Linked DNA regions of Homo sapiens: regions 2 and 3 are each linked to region 1. Evidence: fine-mapped expression QTL. A gene starts in region 1. Each other region holds a variant in brackets. All regions are shown on one strand. Distances are from middle to middle.

Evidence for each region.
Region 2: its variant is fine-mapped to the expression of DNAAF1 in testis (GTEx, PIP 0.91).
Region 3: its variant is fine-mapped to the expression of DNAAF1 in left ventricle (GTEx, PIP 0.97).

What each region holds. Positions count from the first base shown.
Region 1 is chr16:84,140,525-84,147,833 of GRCh38, reverse strand. DNAAF1 (dynein axonemal assembly factor 1) reads right to left here and starts at 2,526. Exons shown (of 12, transcript NM_178452.6): 1 at 2,270-2,526. The coding sequence starts at 2,393. HSDL1 (hydroxysteroid dehydrogenase like 1) reads left to right here and starts at 2,657. Exons shown (of 6, transcript NM_031463.5): 1 at 2,657-2,754. RefSeq lists silencers at 2,473-2,922, 3,083-3,132, 3,183-3,232.
Region 2 is chr16:83,348,588-83,355,896 of GRCh38, reverse strand. The region is part of intron 6 of CDH13 (cadherin 13); the gene reads right to left. Among named protein-coding and RNA genes, the nearest start is that of CDH13-AS1, 47 kb to the left of the region's middle. The variant A/G (reference allele first, on the strand shown) is at 3,241.
Region 3 is chr16:84,021,460-84,028,768 of GRCh38, reverse strand. SLC38A8 (solute carrier family 38 member 8) reads left to right here. Exons shown (of 11, transcript NM_001080442.3): 7 at 5,880-5,994. Among named protein-coding and RNA genes, the nearest start is that of SLC38A8, 18 kb to the left of the region's middle. RefSeq lists an enhancer at 1,144-1,645. The variant C/G (reference allele first, on the strand shown) is at 5,275.

The sequences.
Region 1 (7,309 bases):
TTGGCCTTCCAAAGTGCTGGGATTACAGGCGTGAGCCACCGTGCCCACCCTTATTTATTTTTATTTTTTTTTTGGGGGGGGCTTATTTCTTTAATTAAAAAAGACTTCAAATAAATATGATAAAATGTTACTCATTTTCAATTCTTGCTGGCAAAACACGGGTATTTGTTTTAATGTTCTTTGTTCTTTTGTCTTTTAAAAAATTTCTGAAGCCAGGTGTAGTGGAGCATGCCTGTAGTCCCAGCTACTCAGGAGGCTGAGGCAGGAAGATCTAGCCTGGGTAACATAGTGAGATTCCATCTCTTAAAAAAAAAATCATAAAAAGGAAAATCACATGAAAAGAAACAAAAATAGTGAGAATATCTATGATAACAATAACATGAGCACATTCAAATGAATAATTTTTTTAAAGGTCATTCAAAATTGGCCAATTCAACCGCACTTAACTTTAAGAGCTGTTGTCTGCTGCTTTCTGTGTTTGTGTGGTCTATTGAACAAGACTAAAGGCTGTGCGTGTGGGGACTGGTTCTTAAACTCATCAATTTTGCATAGAATGCCCAGCCACAGGAAGCAACAGATAAATGTTTGTGGAAAAAATAAAGAATAAGCGCTCAATATATAAATATTAATATGTAATTAATAACAAGAGCTACCATTTAATAATGGCCCACTATATGCTGGGACATTTAATTATAATTCTCTCCTTATACTCCTGTATAATTATTCCAGCTTACAGATGAGGAGACTAAGGCTCCGAGAGGTTAAGCTCTGGGCCAACAGCCATAAAGCTGGCCAGCTGCTGAGCCTCAACTTGAACCCAGTGTCAATGGCTCCAAGACCAGTGTCTTTCCACTGAGTAATGCCAGTTCCCTATGGCTCCTCATACAAGGTTCATCTGGACAGTTGATGCTTAAGATATATTTGTTGCCTGGAACACAAATCAGCTGGTTTATTTGTTGCCTGCGTTCAGAAACTGGAACACAAATCAAGTGGTTTTTTAATGTAATCACTAAAAGGTTTCCTTTAGGGCACCAAGTCTAGTGGGAGCAGAAGCTGAAGCCAGGCTTCCTTCTTTCCTTTTTTTTTTTTGAGACGGAGTCTTGCTCCATTGCCCAGGCTGGGGTGCAGTGGTGTGATCTTGGCTCACTGCAGCCTCAGCCTCCCCCTTGGCTCACTGCAACCTCTGCCTCCGGGGTTCAGGGAATTCTCCTGCCTTAGCCTCCCAAGTAAGTGGAATTACAGGAGCACGTCACCACGCCCTGCTAATTTTTGTGTTTTTAGCAAAGACAGGGTTTCAATATGTTGGCCAGACTGGTCTCGAACTCCTGACTTCAGGTGACCCACCTGCCTCTGCCTCCCAAATTGCTGGGATTACAGGCGTGAGCCACCGTGCCTGGCCATGAAGGTTATCTTTCAAGTCCATTCTGGCAAACTTTGGTGAGGGGATCACACACTGACCCCAGAACCAAGTCTTCATTCGGACTCTCTACCCTAGGTCAGGCACTGGACTAGACTCCAAATTCAATCAAGATGTCTTGCCCTGACACAACATGCAGTCTGGAGGGAGAGAAAGCCTTTGATCTTACATAGTGATAGCAATAAAGGGACACATTTAAAGCATCAAAGTTGGGACCAGGGAGAATAGCGTGGTGGGTTAGGGCTGGGGCTCTGGAGACCCAGACTGTCTGGGCCTGAGTCTGGTGGGTTTTGTTTGCTTGTTTGTTTGTTTGTTTGTTTGAGACGGAGTCTCCCACTGTCGTCCGGGCTGGAATGCAATGGCGAGATCTTGGCTCACTGCAACCTCCGCCTCCCGGGTTCAAGCGATTCTCCTGCCTCAGCCTCCCAAGTAGCTGAGACTACAGGCGCCCGCCACCACGCCCAGCTCATTTTTTGTATTTTTAGTAGAGACAGGGTTTCACTATGTTGGCCAGGCTGGTCTCGAACTCCTGACTGACCTGATGATCCGCCCGCCTCGGCCTCCCAAAGTGCTGGAATTACAGGCGTTGAGCCACCGCACCCGGCCAAGTCTCTTCTGTCACTGACTAGCCGAGGGTTATCTGTTTGGTGCAAGTTTTGTAACCTCTTAAGTATGTTTCCTCCTCAGTACGAAATGGCGAGAGAAGCCCCTACTGCAGAGCGTTGCTTGCTACCATTATTATTATTGTTATTATTTGGCTGTGAAGATCGGGTATGTGGTGTGGGAAGGGGGCTGGAGCGCCTAGCCGTGTCTGCCCCTCGCCCACCGCCCTCCCTGGGGGGCAGTCGGCACCTTCCTTGCAGCCCCCTCGGCCTGCGCTCCCGTGGTCACCCGCAGACTCCTCCACGCCGGGCTCCTGCGCGCAATCCAGCTCTGCTGCACCACCTGTCGCAGGCTCCGAGGGCTCAGGGTGCATGTTTACTTCGGCGACACCGAACGCCCCGCAGCTTTGGGGGGCCCAGGTTCGCGGCGGACGTCGCTACGGCCCCAGCCCAGCCAGAGAGTACCCTCTTTCCTTCTTCGCCAGCCGCTGGCGCCCTAGTCTTTACAGCCCAACGCTTCCCCGGTCGCCCAGGCAACCGCTGCGCACGCGCACTCGGGACGGACCGGCGCGCTGGGGACGCCGGGGGGTGGGGGCGGGTCTGAGACGGCTCCGCCCCCGGCGCGTACGCGGGTCACGTGAGGGCGCGGCGCGGCAGCAGCTCCGGCGGCCGAGACGGGGGCGGCGGCCGCGCGGGTCTGGCGGGACCGGTTTGGAAGACTTTGCCGGCCTGCAGGTACCGCGCCCCCCGCGCCCTGGGCGCCCTCTCGCGGTCCTTTCGCCCCAGACCCCTCCTCGGTCCCCTCAGCGCCAGCCGGCTGCTTGGCGAGACCCCTCTGAGCTCTCACCACGCCCCCCAGGCCCCGGGCCCCCTCCGCTGCATCCGGCCCCGAAGCCCCTTGGCGCCCCTGACCCCAGGAAATCTTCGTCCCTCCGTCCCGTGAGACTCCTTCCTTCAGACCAAAAAGCCCCAGCCCCGCCCCTTCACATCTCAGAGCCCCCCTTCCCCCGGCTCCATCCTCACGCCCCCCGCCGCGGCGCTGCACCCCTGTTCTCTCTCTTCCCCCGGGCCTTGCCCCCCAAACCGCGAACCCCGTTGTCGCCGGCGCATGCCCTGCCCTCCCTGCAGCCTCTCACCCGGCTCCTCCCCCGAGCGGCCCCAGCAATCGCCTCCTTTGTCGGTGCTTCTTTATTCTCATTTCTGAACGATTTGGTTTGAGTTGTTGTTGCCGTGTTTTTCTAAAATGGAAATATGCAGCGGTCGTGGGTTCAGCCAGGATTTCCGAGTTTGCTCGTGTTGACTGGGCCTTGCCGGGTGCTGGAGGGGAAGGGCTGGGAAGAAGAACCAGGCAGGTCCCCGTTCTGAACGTGCCACCCAGACGCAGCCCCAGAAACCGGATCGCTGCAGCGCCCCTCGGCGATCCCAACATGATGTGTACAGGTGACTGCGAGGCAGTCGGGGGGTCTCACAGTGGGCTCCCTGGACAGGACTCTGCGCCTTGCTATACCTCCATCTGAATTGCAGGTAGCCCCTTTCTGAGTTGTGGGGTCTTGGGTGTGCGACTTTACATCTATAAGACTCAATTTCCCCATCTATAAACGGGAGAGTCTGACTGCGCTTTATAAGATTAATGAGAGAATAAAGTGAGACAATAGGAATAAAGCACTTAGCAGAGTCTTTTGCATAAAGTGAGCTCTCAATTTTACTCTGACCGCCACAGGAGAGAGAGAGAGAGAGAGAGGGAGGGAGGGAGAGGGAGAGGGAGGGGGAGGGGGAGGGTGTTGATTGATTGATTGATTCAGACAATCTCGCTCTGTCGCCCGGGCTGTAGTGCAATGGTGCCTGCGATCTCAGCTCCTGCTACCTCTGCCCGCCATCCCGCACCCCGGGCCCAAGTGATTCTCCTGCCTCAGCCTTCCGAGTAGCTGGGATTACAGGCACGTTCTACCACACCCAGCTAATTTTTTTTTTTTTTTTTTTAGTAGAGACGGGGTTTCGCTGTGTTGGTCAGGGTAGCCTTGAACTCCTGGCCTCAAGTGATCTGCCCGCCTTGGCCTCCCAAAGTTCTGGGGTTACAGACATGAGCCACTGTACCCGGCCAAGTTTGTGGTTTTAATCACTGCTGGAATATTCTAGGGCAACAGAGTTGAACATATTGGTGCTACTTTTTTTTAAAGTAGGTTTTCAAAAATCGAAATGACTTACGCATGACATAAAATTTATCATTTTAGCCATTTTACAGTGTATAACTCAGTAGTTCTTGCTATAGTCACAATGCTATGCAACCATCACCAGTAACTAATTCCAGAACATTTAATCACCTACAAAAGAAACCCCAACCCCATTAACAGTCATACCTCTTTTCTCCCCCTGTCCCTCAGCAGCCCTAAGTTATCTTCTGTCTCTATGGATTTGCTTATGCTGGACATTTCATACAAGTGGAAACATACAACATACGGCCTTTTGTATTTGGTTTCTGTCCTTTAGCATAATGTTTTCAAAGTTTATCCATGTTGTAGTATGTATCAGTACTTCATGCTTTTTTATGGCTGAATAATACTCCTTTGTGTGGATAACACCACATTTTGCTTATTCATTCATTTGTTGATGGACATTTTGTTTGTTTCTGCCTTCTGGCAGTTGTGAGTAGGCCACTGTGAACATGCAAGCAGGAGTTTTTATGTGAGCAAAAGTTTCTAATTATCTTGGGTATCTGCCTAGGAGTGGGGTACTCTGAATATTTTAATTCTTACTGCATAAATACAGACATGATGGTGAAGAGTGTTGGATCTTGGATGAGAATCCAGGTTTCTAATTCCATGTTGCTGCTCTTTAGGCTCAGCTTCATTGTGCGTTTAGTCCTATACCAAAAATTGGCAGTGAAGGTAAAGACATCCCAAAAAGTCTTGATACACCAATGCTAACTTTGTCATAGTGCTGACGCAGAGTATGAAAAGCTTAAGTTTTTTTCTCAAGAGTGAAATTTGAGCTTTGAACACAAAGCAGTATTTGATTCTGTTTATTAAATAAAGTTGTCTACAGCAGCATGTCAGGTGCTGAGGAGGAATATTAAAGATGTGTGAGATCCGGCCGGTCACATCCCAGTGCTTTGGGAGGCCAAAGTGGGCGGATCACAAGGTCAGGAGTTCAAGACCAGCCTGGCCAATATGGTGAAACCCCCGTCTCTACTAAAAAAGAAAAAAATACAAAAATTAGCCAGGCATGGTGGCACACGCCTGTAGTCCCAGTTACTTGGGAGGCTGAGGCAGAAGAATTGCTTGAACTTGGAAGGAGGAGGTTGCAGTGAGCTAAGATCGCGCCATTGCACTCCAGCCTGGGTGACAGAGTGAGACTCTGTCTCAAAAAAAAAAAAAAAAAAAAAAAGATGTGTGAGATCCCAGCCTCACACCATCACAAAACGCCAGGAGGATTAAAGACTTAAACTGAAAAAGCAAAAATGTAAAATTTCTAGAAAATAATTCGAAAAAATTTCTTCATGACCTGAGGCTAAGGAGGGATTTCTGAAATAAAACAAACCCTAAAGCAGAAAGATTGATATATTTGTCTCTTTCAAAATTAAGACATTCAGCCAGGTGCAGTGGCTCCCACCTGTAATCCCAGCACTTTGGGAGGCCAAGGCAGGTGAATGGTTTGAGCTTACGAGTTTGAGACCAGCCTGGGCAACATGGTGAAACCTCATCTCTACACACACAAAAAAAATTTAACTGGGCTTGGTGGTACATGCCTGTGTCCCAGCTACTTGAGATGCTGAGGTGGGAGGATGGCTTGAGCCCGGAAGGCGGAGGTTGCAGTGAGCTGTGATCATGCCACTGCACATCAGGCTGGGCAATAGAGCCAGACCTTGTCTCAATAATAATAACAACACATTTAGTTCATGAAAGACACTATAATGAGACACAAAACATACAGAGAGCTAGTATCTAGAATATTTAAAGAATTCTTACAATTCTGAGAGAAAAAAAAGGAAAGGACAAAAGATAGGAACGGGCATTTCATAGATTACAAAACACAGAAAGCACATACATATAAAAAGGACTGCAGCCTTACTAGTAACCAGGGAAATGTAAATTAAAACCATAATGAGATACCATTTCACAGCCACCCTGTTGGCAGAAGGTGAAGCTTTGGACGCTACCAGCCAGTGACATTGAGGAGTGGCACGAACCTGCTGCTGGCGGGAGTGTGAATGGGTTCTGCCGCTTTGCAAAAGCATTTGGCAGTGGAATGCATGTGGACCAGCAGTTAAACCATGGGCAAATCCCTTTGCGAACTCTTGCACAGGTGTGCAGGAGATGGGGACAAGCGCTCCCTGCAGCACTGTTCCTAACTGTAAATCAAAACCAGCAGAAACAGTGCACGTGCCTAGCACCAGCAGCAGGGGGACCTGTGAATCGTGGTGTATCTGAACCAGCAGCAGGGGGACCTGTGAATCGTGGTGTATCTGAACCAGCAGCAGGGGGACCTGTGAATCGTGGTGTATCTGAACCAGCAGCAGGGGGACCTGTGAACTGCAGTGCATCTGAACCGTGAGATACTGTGCAGCTGCCGAGGAGGATGGACTATATAGCTGCAGGGGCATGGATGAGTCTCGGGAATGATGTTGAGTGAAAGAAACAAGTCACCAAAGGGTCCATGTGGTGTGGTTCCTTTATGTGAGGTTCAAAACCAGGCGAAACTTAGCAATACTGTTTTTTTTTTTGTTTGAGACGGAGTCTCGTTCTGTCGCCCAGGCGGGAGTGCTGTGGCGCGATCTCCGCTCACTGCAAGCTCCGCCTTCCGGGTTCACGCCATTCTCCTGCCTCAGCCTCCCGAGTAGCTGGGACTACAGGCGCCCACCACTGCGCCCGGCTAATTTTTTGTATTTTTAGTAGAGACGGGGTTTCACCGTGGTCTCGATCTCCTGACCTCGTGATCCGCCCGCCTCGGCCTCCCAAAGTGCTGGGATTACAGGCGTGAGCCACCGCGCCCGGCCAGCAATACTGTTACTGTTTCAGAATACATGCTTGGGGTATACAGCTGTTTTGTTAAAAGAGTCAGGGAGTGACTACCCCAGAATTTAGGAGAGAGGCTGCCTCCAGGATAGAGGAGGGGCTGTAATCAGAGGAACAGCATACAGGACTTCCACGACACTGGTTTTGTTAAGTAGGCTGGTGGCTAAGTGGCTGTTTTATTATTCTTTGAACTGTGCATAATAGGTTTTACATACTTTTGTATATATTTAAACATTTTTGCCAGGTGCAGTGGCTCACGCCTGTAATCCCAGCACTTT
Region 2 (7,309 bases), 790 kb after region 1:
TAATAGTGCTAGAAAAATATACAGCTGATTACCACTGCTGTGTTACCCTGGGACAGGCATCATCTCCCTCCCTTAATCCTAGAGAGATGCTCCCCTGTGTAGCAGTTGAAAACTGACGTTCCCCTGTGTAACAGTGATGCTTTATTTACTGACTTCCTCTTTCGTCTGCAAGCTCTACAGAGTCAGCATCCATTCTGTTTCATGCATTCACCCCCTCCAACCCCATCCTCATTAAACAGCATACCTGGTATACGGCAGGTACTCTAAAGGTATTTGTTGAAAGAATGAATACATTTTCAATAAATACAACCATTTATTTAAAAATTGAATTAAAAAACAGTTTATCGGGATTCAGGCTTTCTGGCCTTTGGAGCCATTTGTTCATCCAGTGGAATTTATTGGGTGGATAATTTGTGCCTGGGACTCTGCTAAATGTTGGAAGTTGAAGGATGAAGAGAAAACCATTCAGTTCTCCTGGTCTTAACTGTGTTGCTGAGAAAGAGAACTGAAGGTAGATTCTGGTTTATACTTGCAGAAAATTTATAAACCTATTAAGGCTTACAGTATTATTGTAATTCCACATAGATGGCATCAGTTATAATAAGCTGGCATCATAAAATGACTCAATATTTAGAATTTTCCGATTTGTCACACACTTGCTGTAAAAATTTTATGTGATCTCTTCTCTCCATCTCCGTAGCTGCCATGGTTTTCTCATGCCTAGAACATTGAAATGCCTTGTTTCCCTATTTCTCTCTCCACAGAATAGCACAAGTCATTTTTCAGCAGTAAAATCATATCTATTTCCTCGCTTAAAACCACCCAAGGGCTTCCTACTAAGTTTAAAATGTAATCAAAATGTATGGAGTTCTAAGCCAGGGGTCTGCAAACTTTTTATTTGCAGAGGATCAGGTATTACATACTTTTGCCTCTGTGGAATATACAGTCTGTGTCCCCGCTACCCAATTCTACCAATATGGTGCGAAAGCAGCCATAGTCAATACATGAATGAAGGGGCACATGTGTATTCTAATAAAACTTTATTTAAAAAACAACAGGCAGAGAGACACATTTGGCCCATGGCCCATAGTTTGTTGACTCATGCTCAGAACGATCTTGCCCTTGCCCTTGCCCATCTCCCTGTCTCACCTGGTACTACCGTCCCTCAGGTCATTCCTGCCTCAGGTCTCTGCACTTCCTGGCCCCTGCGTCTGGAACATCCTTTCTCCATGCCTTTACTTGGTAGGCTCCTTTATTTCACTGGGCTCAGCTTCAACATCACCTCTTTAGAGAGGACTTTTCTTGACCTTATGTCAATAAAACAATGTACCTTGTTTTATTTTATCCGAAACTTAAATTATCTGGCTTATCCATTTCTGTTGGCACCTTTCTCCTCCCAGGAAGGTGGCAATGTCTTAAGAATAGAGTTCTAAATGGTCTTGGTCACTGCTATATCCCCAGCCCCTATAATATTATCTGACTCATAGAAACTGCCCGATAAATACTTGTTGAATGAATTTACTGAGGAAATGGTTATGAAGAATTGATTTGAAATAAGGGTTTCCCCGAAATTATAAATGTTTAATGACATTTGGATCTGCCACTCTGTTTTACTCAGCTGCAGTGCTAAAAATTGCTGGGCTATTCACAGTGGATCCTTTGGTATCAGGGATAGGATCCAACGGCGCTGGTGAGCACGTTCTGTGCTAGGACAACTCAAGGACTTTTTCACTTTTGCTTTGCAGCTGCTCAACCGTCACCAATTTTCATTTTCGCTAGAAATTCCTGTCAGGTTTATCTTTTCAAAAGACTGTAGAATGATCACTACATTTCTGAAGCTACAAATGCTCCTTTGCCCTGCTGCCACTTTAAACTATTATTTTAATTAAGTTACTCAATTAATTTTAATATTTTTACTTTTATTTTTAAATATTTGATGCCACAAATCCTTCCCTCTTCCAAATATAGAGTGATGGAAGGATGACTCCCGGCTTGGGCCTAAAATATCATATCCAAAAAATTAGTGGGCAGGGCTATTAAGCGTTTATTTTTACAAGGAAGTAATCAAAGTGAACCCAAGGGCCACATCTCCCCAGTTCACCCAGAATACAAAGGTCTAATGTGAATGATATGAGCATGGGTGATGGGCAGAGGAGAGGCAGATACATAGGCTAGTCCAGGAATAAGACTTCATGGTTAGAGAGGAGAGTGTTTCAGGAAACAATGGGGTGTCCATCTCTTGAGCTGATCTCCAGCCCCAGAGATGCATGTGTGAATTTAGGGGGAGAGAGAGCTATAAATAAAAATGAAAAGAGTTGTTTTCACAGTTATTCACATTAAAGAAGAAACATACAGTTCTGTTGGTTGGTTAGATACTCTTCTACCAGAATAAAGGGGTTCAGGCATTCTCTCCTGTCCCAGCAGATGCTTTGGTATCCAGCTCCCATGAGCCAGCAGCCAAGGGTCCTAACATGTGCAATGGTGCCCATCAGGGCGGGCCTGACATGTGCAATGGTGCCCATCAGGGTGGGGGCCTGGGATATGGAGGAGGGAAATCCCAATGGCTATGACAAGGGAGCCGACTGTCTTGGTTCTGAGCCGGTGTGAGATATCACCAGAGGACCTTCAGACATAGTTAGGAGCAACTTGGCAAAGATTCAGTTTCTTTTTTATTTGTATAGATTTAACAGTACAAGTGCAGTTTCGTTACACGGACATGTGGCAGAGTGCTGACGTCTTGGCTTTTAGTGTAACTATCACCTGAGTAACATATATTGTACTCATTAAGCAATTTCTCACACGTTACACCCTTGCCACGCTTCCACCCTTCTGAGTCTCCAAAGTCTATTATTCCACACTCTATGTCCATGTGTACACATGATTTAGCTCTGACTTATAAGTGAGAGCATGCAGTATTTGACTTTCTGAGTTATTTCACCAAAGATAATGGCATCCACATTGTTGCCAAAGCCATGATTTTATACTTTATTTATTTATTTATTTTTTTGAGACGGAGTCTCGCTCTATCGCCCAGGCTGGAGTGCAGTGTCACGATCTCGGTTCACTGTACACTCCGCCTCCCGGGTTCATGCCATTCTCCCACCTCAGCATCTTGAGTAGCTGGGACTACAGGTGCCTGCCACAGCACCTGGCTAATTTTTTGTATTTTTAGTAGAGACGGGGTTTCACCGTGTTAGCCAGGATGGTCTCGATCTCCTGACCTCGTGATCCACCTGCCTC[A/G]CCCTCCCTAAGTGCTGGGATTATAGGCGTGAGCCACCGCACCCGGCTGATTTTATACTTTTATATGGCTGAATAGTATTCCATTGTGTGTGTGTATGTATGTATGGTGTGGTGATGAATATACGTAGTGATAACCATGAGTGCAGGTGTTTTTTTGATACAGTGGCTTCTTTTCCTTTGTGTAGACGCCCAGTAGTAGCAGGATTGCTGGATTAAATGGTAGTTCTATTCTAAGTTTTTTGAGAACTATCCATCCTCCTTTCCATACAGTTGTATTTGTTTACATTTCCACTAACAATGTATAAGCATTCGCTTTCCTCTTGAACGACTAGGTGGAGTCAATAGCTAGTGAAGTTCAGATAATACTTTTCATTCCATTTAGCTGTGAATTTTCCTTTTGGGAAATGGTCTCTGATTGGATTATGCAACTCTTTCATAAAACGTGTTTTATGGTCACCTAAACACATTTTAGGCGACCATAAAACACATTTACAGTGAATTGTACCATAACTCAAGTGCTGTCTCCTCCAAGCTCAAGGGCTCTGCAGCATGTTAATGATGCCATCCCTGGGCAGCACTTCTTCACTAAAATTCCAGTGATGACCTAAGGAAAGGGGCCAGTCTCAACCACTGCATTCCTCTGCCTCCACCACAATATCCAGCAAGGATTCCATAGCAAGGCCATCCACTATCTACAAAACAGCTAGTGAAATGACCACAAAAACTTGTAGATACTGAGTGTCATCTGGAGAAACAAACAAAAATATCCATCAGTATGTTTGTGTGTGAAAAGAAAGACTATTGTATCCTGCTGCATGAACAAGCTTAGCCAAGATACAGACTAAAATCCTCTGATTAGAAGCATCACCTGAATAGGGATCAAAACATAACAGGGCATATCCGCCATCCCATTAATCCAGCTCATGTAAATATATCCTATAGAAATTGTCACAAACATGGGAAGAGATGAGCTCTCTTCTGCAGAATTGATGGAAGTGTAGAAAAGTGAAAACAACTTAAATCGATAGGAAATTGGTTAAGGAGACGATGGTAGATCCAGACTCTAGCTGTTTGAAACAATGATGTTGCTTGATGTTTATTGATTTACAAAAATGTCCATAGGACCCTGAGGAGTGAAGAGAGAGATTTACGGAAAAGCACATAGAGCTCCCATTCTGTAAAACTGTGCACCTGCATCTCTCTGTGTAGAGATGCCAGGAGAGAACCCCAGAACTGCACTCACTAAAATGTCAACTGTGGTTATCTCTGGATGGTGGCACTGGAGAGTGACTGCATTTTCTTTCACTTGAAAAGAACAGAATTGCTTTATTTATTTTTTAAAAAATATATCTACCTAAGGAAAAAAAAAAAAAAAAGAAATAGCCACATGCCTGATATTCCAGAAACACATAGGATTGGTTGGGGCAGTTGAGAATGGAGGAACCTACAGCATGAAAGTCTGAAAATATCAGCAAAAAAAAATTAACAGTCAATGGGTTGAAAAGCCACATCACAGTTACTGCAACAAGTAAAAAGTAACCAGAAAAGGGACTTTACTACCAGGCCATAGCAACAACCTGAACACCATCGGCTGAGCTAGGTGTCAAATATCAACTATCAACTATCCCAGCCATCTTTATTTAGCTCAAGCTGTTTTGGAAAATAGCAACTTCCAAGCAAAGCTGAGCTCTCAGGATAGCCATTAGTCCCAAAGGCGACTTGATCGGCTGGCTTTTTCTTATGTCTGGAATGGCTGGATGTGTTTAAAAATTAAAGGAACTGTGTCTTGAAAAGGAACTCAGGTGGATCCTGGAGGAAAAATAAAAGACAAAAACTCCCTACATCATCTCTTCAGAGCGGCCTCCTATCTCACTACAAGACTAGGTTTGGCCCCTCCCGAGATGAGCCTCCCATACAACTATGTTGTAGCACTTGCCGCAATTTTCTTTCTGATTTATTGGATGCTATCCTCCCTCCTCAGCTATGAATACCAGGAGGGAACAAGCAGCACCTGCCAGGTCCAGTGTTGCACATTCAGAGCTTAGAATAGCGCCAGCACAGAGTAGATGCTTGCTAAGCATACTGGATGGAAAAAAAAATTAAAGGGACTAAGACAGGAAAGAGAGGGAGGGAAAGTGGCTGGGCTTTCAGAAGTTAGACAATGAGGACGTAACTGCTAATCTCTGCTTGTCTTCAACAGCCTCAAGAAGAAGGATCAGACATGCCTAAGCAATGTGCATCTTTCAGGACACAGAACGTGCACCTTTAGGTAAATGCCACATTCATCTTTGTCAGTCATGCAGTTTGGGAGCTAATTCTTTCCTTCTGTGACCTCTCACCACCTATCTTTCTCAAAGCTGCCCCACCCGTCCAGGGTGGGGGGCTGCCATTCTCCCAGCTGCCCTGGCTGCCATTTGGGGTGGCTAAAAGCCAGGAGAGCGAACACAACCTACAGCCAGCTCCTGATGTTGTTGGAAGGCCGAGGCCTCAAGAGGACAGGATATTGGAGCTGATGGATCCCAGGTTTCCCTTGCGCACAGCTGGCGGCAAGTGCCTGGAAATTAAAGCCCCCCATCCTTGGGGACAGCTTTGAACCTATGTCTCATTATCAGACTTGGGGGAGTAGATATTCTAGCTACCTGCCCCTTAGCTGAGATAACTCTAACGTATGTGTTTAATGTCATTTCCTTGAGCTCCCCAAAAAGGATAAAGCTGCAGTTACCCACTCTGGGAGCTGCTTTAATAATGCACCTCAAGGGCCAGGTGCAGTGACTCACACCTGTAATCCCAGCATTTGGGAGGCCAAGGTGGGCGGATAACCTGAGGTCAGGAGTTCAAGACCAGCCTGGCCAATGTGGTGAAACCCCATCTCTACTAAAAATACAAAAATTAGCTGGGCGTGGTGGCAGGTGTCTGTAATCCCAGCTACTCGGGAGGCTGAGGCAGGAGAATTGCTTGAATGCAGGAGGCACAGGTTGCAGTGAGCTGAGATCATACTATTGCACTCCAGCCTGGGCAACAAGAGCAAAACTCCGTCTCAATAGTGATAATAATAATAATAATAATAATAATAATGCACCTCAAGTTGTCTGACTTCCTTTTCTGTACCTCACCTTACCTGGTATCTGTCCCTGTACCTCTCAAGCAAACCACAGGCAGGCCTCAATCTTCATCTCAGGGCCTGCTTCTGTGGGAGCCTGACATGCCATTCCTCATGGTCAGCCATTCTCAAAGGTGCCCAGGAAACCACCAGAGGGCAAAACACCCATGAATTGATGCCAACAAGACATGATGGGGCCTTGGAATTAGTGCCCTCCAGGAATTTCAAGAGTTCTCACCCTCTACCCCCTACTCATGAACACCATGTCTTGGCCATCAGAAAACACCAAACTCACACAGAGATCTGTATGCCCCCAAGGAGCAGCCAGAGCCTTGGCTTGGGCCTCATAAATCAATGTCTGTGGCTCTGCAAAAGCAACAGCTCACGATCTGCAAAGTCAAAGACCATTATGTTCTGCTGATCTTCCTTCATCCAGGAATGATTCACCAAAACAATACCCCGGAGTTCAGTGCTGAGCAGCCGGAATGGTCTCCTGTCTGCACATACAGATAAATATGGGTGACCTTCCTTTGTGATAGATTGGTGCCGAGGGCATTCGAACACATGGGGACATGAAAATGACGCGTGGTTTGCTGGAAGATGAATTTGTCTTCACACAACTCATGTGTCTCTTTGCTTTACCTTTGCTAAAGGGTACTCTTCCAGAATAAAAATAATAATTGCACTGTTAACAATACAAAGGCATTCATTGTACATTTACTGTTCCCTAAGCACTGGGTGAAGCATGTTGTCTCACTGAATCCTCACATATACTTCTCTAAGGTAGCTACTGTTATATTCTATCCCCATTTGCAGAGGGTCCTAGAAGGTTCAGTAACTTGCCCAATATCACACCGTGTTAAATAGCTGAGCACAGCGTCAAACACAGCTCTAGGCTACAATGCTGTGAGCAGGAACAGCCACATAATTTGTGACGCTCAGTGTAAAATGAAAATGCAGACACCTTGT
Region 3 (7,309 bases), 120 kb after region 1:
GGCCCCAGGCACAGCTGGAGAGAGACCTGCAGAGGGCTCTGTGGCACAGCGCTGGGGGGAAGGTGGCGGGGCAGGGGGGGCAGGGGAGGTGGCGGGCCTGGGCTCAGTCCTCTGCTTCTGGGCTGTCATGGGTTCCCGCAGCCCTCCTAGCAGGTGGAAGCAGACACTGCTCTTCCATTTCTTTCTTTTTTTTTTTTTCTTTTTTTGAGTTGGAGTCTCATTCTTATTGCCCAGGCTGGAGTGTAGTGGATCTCAGCTCACTGCACTGCACCTCCTGGGTTCAAGCCTCCTGAGTAGCTGGGACTACAGGCGTGCACCACCATGCCTGGCTAATTTTTTTTGGTATTTTTAGTACAGAGGGAGTTTCACTATGTTGGCCAGGCTGGTCTTGAACTCCTGACGTCAAGCGATCTGCCCTCCTCGGCCTCCCACAGTGCTAGGATTATAGGCGTGAGCCACCGTGCCTGGCCACGCTGCTTATTTTCGGGAAGATTTGCCTCGATGTCCTAAAAACAACCACCTATCCACTGCCTACCACCAGCACCAACAAAACCATTCCAAAGTAAAATCAAGTCCACAGGGAGATGTGTCCAGGGTTTACCACCGGATCTCAGCTTTGTAGCCATTGAGCTCGTCTCTTCCCTTGACCATCAGTGAGCTCTGCTTCTGTTCTTCATCTTGCCTTTTCTTTGAGAACCCTTTTTAGGAAAAAAAAAAAAAAAATCTTGAAACATTTCCATTTCTCTTCCTCGTAATCAGTCGGCGTGCTGCTTCAGGGCCTCAGCAAGCCACTTCTGTGGATTTCTCACATTGCTTCCTGCACGCCCAATATTTTGAAAGATCTGAAGAGCTGATTTTGCTGTCAACTGTTTGTCTGGACTGAGTTTAAGAACCTCTCTCTGTGCCCAAGCGCCATATGGTGCAGCAGACCTACGCCGGGGCCGCCTCCCCGATGCTTGCAAGGGGTGCCCCTCACCTTTGCCTCCAGCCCTCACCGGATTCTCCTAGCAACGAGGCCTGGGCTGCGTTTCCAGGGACACGGGATGCCGAGATGAAGAGCTGGGAAGGATAGGAACTGAAGGAGTGGGAGTAGGGGCTCAGGCTAGAGGTGGGGGCTGCCAGGATCTGAAGCGGGGGAGAATAAATGTAACTGAAGGTGCTGGGAAAAGGGGGTAAGGCTGGAGAGGGCTGCAGGAAAGGGACGGTCACATACTGTCATCAGGAACTCTGACCTGACTCAAACACAGCGTCCCCGCCCAAACACATTTGGCAATGGGGCACCCCCGCCCCAGGCCTGTCCAGTCAGTGAGAGGGGCCTCAGGAGCAGAGGGGTTGTGTCCACTCCCAGCCAATGCGGCTACACCAGGACTTCTAGTGTGTGTTTGTTTGTTTGTTTGTTTGTTTGTTTTAATTTTGCTTTTGTGGCAGACTTGCTCTGTCGCCCAGGCTGGAGTGCAGTGGTGTGATCTTGGCTCACTGCAGCCTCCGCCTCCTGGGTTCAAGCGATTCTCCTGCCTCAGCCTCTTGAGTAGCTGGGATTACAGGCGCCTGTCACCACGTCCAGCTAATTTTTGTATTTTTAGTAGAGACGAGGTTTCAACACGTTGGCCAGGCTGGTCTCGATCTCTTAACCTTTTGATCTGCCCACCTCAGCCTCCCAAAGTGCTGGGATTACAGGCGTGAGCCACTGTGCCTGGCTGGTTTTTGTGGTTTTAAAAAATATCTTTATTGAGATAGGATGCATATACCGTGCCATTCACCCTTCTGAAGTGTGCAGTGCAATGGATTTTAGTACAGTCAGAGCTGTGCAACCATCACCACAGTCAATTGAGAACCTTTCTGTTGCCCCTCGAAGAAACCCATCGCCGTCAGTCACTCTCCATTCTCCACCTCTGCCCGCAGCTCTTGCACTTCTTGTCTGTCTGGATTTGCCTACGATGGCCACCTCCTAGGAATGGAATCCTATTGTGGCCTTTTAAGACAGGCTTCCCTCCCCCGCCGTGTTGGTGGGATTCATCCATGTTGTAGCCACCCTATCTGTGGTCAAATAATATTCCATTGTGTGGATAAGCTGCGCTTTATCCCCTGTCCTTTGATGGGCATCTGGGTGGGGTCCACTTTTTGGCCACTGTGTCGTCTTCCTGTCTCCTTCCATCACCGAGCAACTGCCCACTGCCACCACCTCCTGGGTACTGCCTGCCCTCAGCAGGCCTGCTCTGCTTCCCCTTATAAAACCAGTAGAGGCTGGGCACGGTGGCTCATGCCTGTAACCCCAGGAATTTAAGAGGCCGAGGCGGGTGGATCACCTGAGGTCAGGAGTTCAAGACCAGCCTGGCCAACATGGTGAAACCCCATCTTCACTAAAAATACAAAAATTAGCCGGGCATGGCGGTGCGGGCCTGTAATCCCAGCTACTTGGGAGGCTGAATCAGAATCCCTTGAACCCAGGATGTGGAGGTTGCAGTGAGCCAAGATCATGCAACTGTACTCCAGCCTGGGCGATGGAGCGAGACTCTGTCTCAAAAAAACAAAACAAAACACCAGTAGAAACCCAACTGCGGAGTCAAACAGGGAGAAAAGGAGGCACCCTCCTGCCCACCAACCTGTCTGGCACTACTAACTGTCTTTTCCCTTATATTGGACTCAGCTGTGCCCCTATACGCAGAGCTGCCGTTCGGGGACTCCCCACCTCGGGGCATCTGCCGTGCCCTGAAGGCAGAGCCTGCCATGGGGCTGAGGTGCTGGTGCACGGAGGTCCCCATTGTGGGCACTGGGGCTCTAGGACCACAGGGCTGACCTGAGAGTGTGGGGTGAGCCCCACAAGTGCTGCGGGGGTGCAGGAGGCAGAGGGGTTGCGTCCCCCCTGCTGGCAGAGCCCTCCTGTAGGACAGGAAACCTGGGGCCAGAGAGCAGGGGTGCGCGGTGCCTGAGGTCAACGCGCCAGCGGAAGGGCTGTGCTCAACTAGGGCTGGAAGCCGGAGGGAGGAGGCCACTGTGCCCTCCTATATTTCCAGAATGTGTCCTGGGGGTGAGAGGACAGCTGTGCTGGGCTTGTTTCCTTGGCTTGGCTCACTTGCACCGAGGAGGACTCATGAGTGACAGAGCGAGGCTGGGTGGAGGGAGGCCTGGTGGCTGCTGGGTGGGTTCACGGGATGGGTAGGTGGGTAAGCCCTGTAGTGTTTATTCAGCTCGGTGCAGGCTCCGATCCTGGCCCAAGCTCAGAGCCCTGAGCAACGCAGACTTGGTCGTTGTTGTCGTGTGGTTGAGAGACGCTGAGTAGACAAACCGAAAAGCCCGCTCGTGTTGAGGACACGGGCTGTGTGAGAGAGGAAACCAGCCCACTCGGGAGGGCTCCCCAGGAGGGTGCAGAGGAGTTGGCTGGACTCGGAGAAAATCCGGCCAGAGGGACCAGCAGTAGCAAAGGCCCTGAGGCGCGGAGGGAAGACCTAGCTGATCTGAGCTTCCTGCGTAGGGTCCCTACAGGGCGGGCAGGAATGAGGCCTTGGCACGTTTGGTTTTGGCCAGGAGTGAGAGAGTGGGTGTGATGGTGGGAACCAGCCCCAGGAGCCTGGGAAGAACCCTGAACCCACCAGTGTGTCCGGAAAAAGCATCCCCGCCCGGTGTGTCTGGACAGAGCAGAGCCTCCCTGCCCAGCCCTGGCTGTACATCAGTATTCTCTTGGCTGTTCGTGAATCACCAATGTCCACGACCCACCCAGGGAAATGAATTCACATGACTCATGGGCTCTTGGCATTGACTGTGTATGTTTTGCGTTAAAAAAATTCTTGCACTGGGCTTGGTGGCTCACGCCTGTAATCCCAGCACTTTGCGAGGCCGAGGTGGGAGGATCACTTGAGGTCAGGAGTATGAGACCAGCCTGGACAACATGGTGAAACCCTGTCTCTACCAAAAATATAAAAAATTAGCTGGGCGTGCCTGTAATCCCAGCTACTCGGAAGGCTGAGGCAGGAGAGTCGCTTAAGCCCGGGAGGCGGAGGTTGCGGCGAGCCAAGTTCGCGCCACTTCAGTCCATTCTGGGTGACAGAGCGAGACTCTGCCTCCCAGGCTTGAGCGACTCTCCTGCCTTAGCCTCCCAAGTAACTAGGATTACAGGTGCTTGCCACCACACCTGACTAATTTTTATACTTTTAGTAGAGACGGGGTTTCACCATGTTGGCCAGGCTGGTCTCGAACTCCAGACCTCAGGTGATCCACACGCCTTGGCCTCCCAAAGTGCTGGGATTACAGGCGTGAGCCACCGCTCCCTCCTGCGTTTAAAATTCTTATCCCCCTTGGGCATGGTGGCTCGTACTTGTAATCTCAGCACTTAGGGAGGCCAAAGCAGGAGGGTCGCTTGAACTCAGGAGTTTGAGACCAGCCTGGGCAATGTAGTAAGAAGTCATCTCTACCAAAAAAAAATGCTTACCCCAATATGGCATGTCACATATACAGTATGTAGATTCTAAGTATGTGTGCACCCATGTGACATGGTCAAGCCCCCGGGAACCCCTTCATGACCTTTTCTGGTCAGTAGCACCCACCCTACCCAAACCACCATCCTGCCTTCTAGCACCACAGAGTGGGGTTTGCGTGGGTTGGTTATACCCCCAGGGAACATTTGACCATGTCTGCAGACATTTTGGGTTGTCACAACTTGGGGGAGGGGGGCTGTTACTGGCATGTAGTAGGTCCCGGCCAGGGACACTGCACAACACCCCCACCCCAAACACACAGGGCGGCTGCCAAGAGTTAACCCACACCAGACATCAATCGTGTCAAGGCTGAGAAACCCTGGTGTAGAAGTGTTTATCTTGTAACTTGGACTTCGCATCCATTAACGGAAACATTCTCTGCTGCCCGGCTTGTTTTTCTTTTGAGACACAGTGTCACTGTGTCTTTCAGGCTGGAGTGCAGTGGCACGATCTTGGCTCACTGCAACCTCCGCCTCCCGAATTCCAGTGATTCACCTGCCTCAGCTTCCTGAGTAGCTGGGATTACAGGTGCTCATTACCATGCCCGGCTAATTTTTGTATTTTAAGTAGAGATGGAATTTTGCCATGTTGGCCAGGCTGGTCTCAAACTCCTGACCTCAAGTGATCTGCCCCCTTCGGCCTCCCAAAGTGCTGGGGTGACAGGTGCGAGCCAGCGTGCCCGGCACCTATGTGGCTTCCTGTGGTGTTCATTGTTCTGACTGAGATTCGTCTGTGTTGAGGTGCATGGTTCTTTGTCAGAGCCACATCATGCTCTGTGTGTTAGTATCCTGCCATTTACTTA[C/G]GCCCTCTGCTCTTGGTGGGCATGTGGGTTCTGTTGGGAATAACGCTCAAAATCTTAAGAAAACGGAACACTGAAAGGATTCTTAGCAAAGTAATTTTACTTTTGTGCAGAGGGGTGCTTTTTCTTGGTCAGAGCACACCCGAGCAAAGGAGTACAAGAGCCTTTATTCCTGATGCAAGTCCTGCTCCTGTACCCTTTTCCCATTGGCTGGGGTTGGGCCGCACAATCTAAACTAGCCTCAGTTGAACATTTGAACTTTTTTTTAGATAAGGTGGGCAGGTAAGGGAGAGAGGGGAAAGGGGCAGTGGGTGTTTGTAATGAGCTAGAGAGCTAGTTTTTTAAAAAATAAGGAAAGGAATGCGAGCTTGTATTGATAATGCCTGGTACTGTGGCGTGTTTGGGCATGTAACAAAGGCAGAAAGGAAGGAGAAAAGGAAAGAGGGGTTGGGGGTGTACTGTGAATTAAAGAATAAAGGATTGATCAGGCTATTTCAAGAGAAACCTCATCATATCCCACATTTCCCGCCTTTTGGATATGAGTTTTTTTTCGCATCGCCTGTTCCAGGGGAAGCCAGCATCCTGCTGAGCCGCCCTCTGTCTTACAGTGTCACGAAGCTGCCGTCTCCATCTACTGCAGCATGCGCAAACGGAGCCTCTCCCACTGGGCCCTGGTGTCTGTGCTGTCCTTGCTGGCCTGCTGCCTCATCTATTCACTGACGGGTAAGGCCCTTCCCAGGCACCCCTGCAGAGGGTGGGGAGTGACAGTAGAAACAAGAGTAACAGCGAGTATCTCTCTAGAGAGTTTACCACGTGCTGGGCTCAATACTCAATGTTTTGAGCATCTTATTTAATCCTTAGTGTGCATAGGAAAAGGCCTCATTTCATAGATGAGGAAGCTGAGGCTCAGGTGCCCTCCAGAACTTGTTCGAGGTTTCACAGCTAGATCTGCAAAGCTGAGACCTGAACTCCAGCCTAGCCGTCTCCAAAGCCCGTGCTCTGACACACCACACCCCAGCCCTGCTGCCTGCTGTTCAAAGGACATTGACTGCTGTCCGTCATTACACTGTAACATCTGGGTAGGGTTTACAAAACGTTTGTGGGTGCAGTGGACTCAGGTGCTCACAAACTGTGTGTGGGAGGCAGAGGGTCTTTAAAGGTGATGAAAGTGTGGCTCAGAGAGGGGCTGTGACACGCAGGATCGTACAGTGCATTGGAAGGACAGTCCCAGGTCCCTGGCACGGCTGGCTTCTGGTTGGCCACTTGACGCCAGTCTTTTTTCATTCACCAACGTATCCTCCAGTCTAGGAAGCTCTTGGGCTGCAGTGAATCTCTCAGGCAGCCTTGGACTCCTGTGTGTTATGGTTTGAATATTTATCCTCTTAAAAACTCAGGTTGAAATTTAATCCCTGATGTGGTAGCATTGAGACGTGGGGCCTTCAAGAGGGGATTGGGGCATGAGGCCTCTGCCCTCAAGAATGGATTAATCTATTCATGGATTAGTGGATTAATAGGTTATCATGGGAGTGGGGCTGGTGGCTTTATAAGAAGAAGAAGAGAGACCTGGGCTCACACACTCAGCCCCCTTGCCATGTGACACTCTGCGCGCCACTTCAGGGCTCTGCAAAGTCCCCTCCGGCAAGAAGGCTCTCCCCAGATGTAGCCTCTTGATCCTGGACTTCTCAATCTCCATAACTGTAAAAAAATTTCCTTTCTGTATAAATTACTCAATTTCAGGCATTCTGTTGTAACCAACAAAAAATGGACTAAGACAGAAAATTGGTATCAAGAGTGGGGTGTTGATGATTGACTACCTGGAACGTGGAAGCGGCTTTGGAGCTGGGCAATGAGTGCAGGCTGGAAGAATTCGGAGGAGCAGGCTAGAATAAGCCTAGATTCTGGTGAGGGCTTAGAGACAAGACTAGGGAACATTTGGAACTTCTTAGATACTCTAGTTAGTCATGGAAATATGGATAGTAAAGTCTGTTCTGAGGAGGTTTCAGACGGAACTGAGGAACAAGGTTTTGGAAGCTGGAGT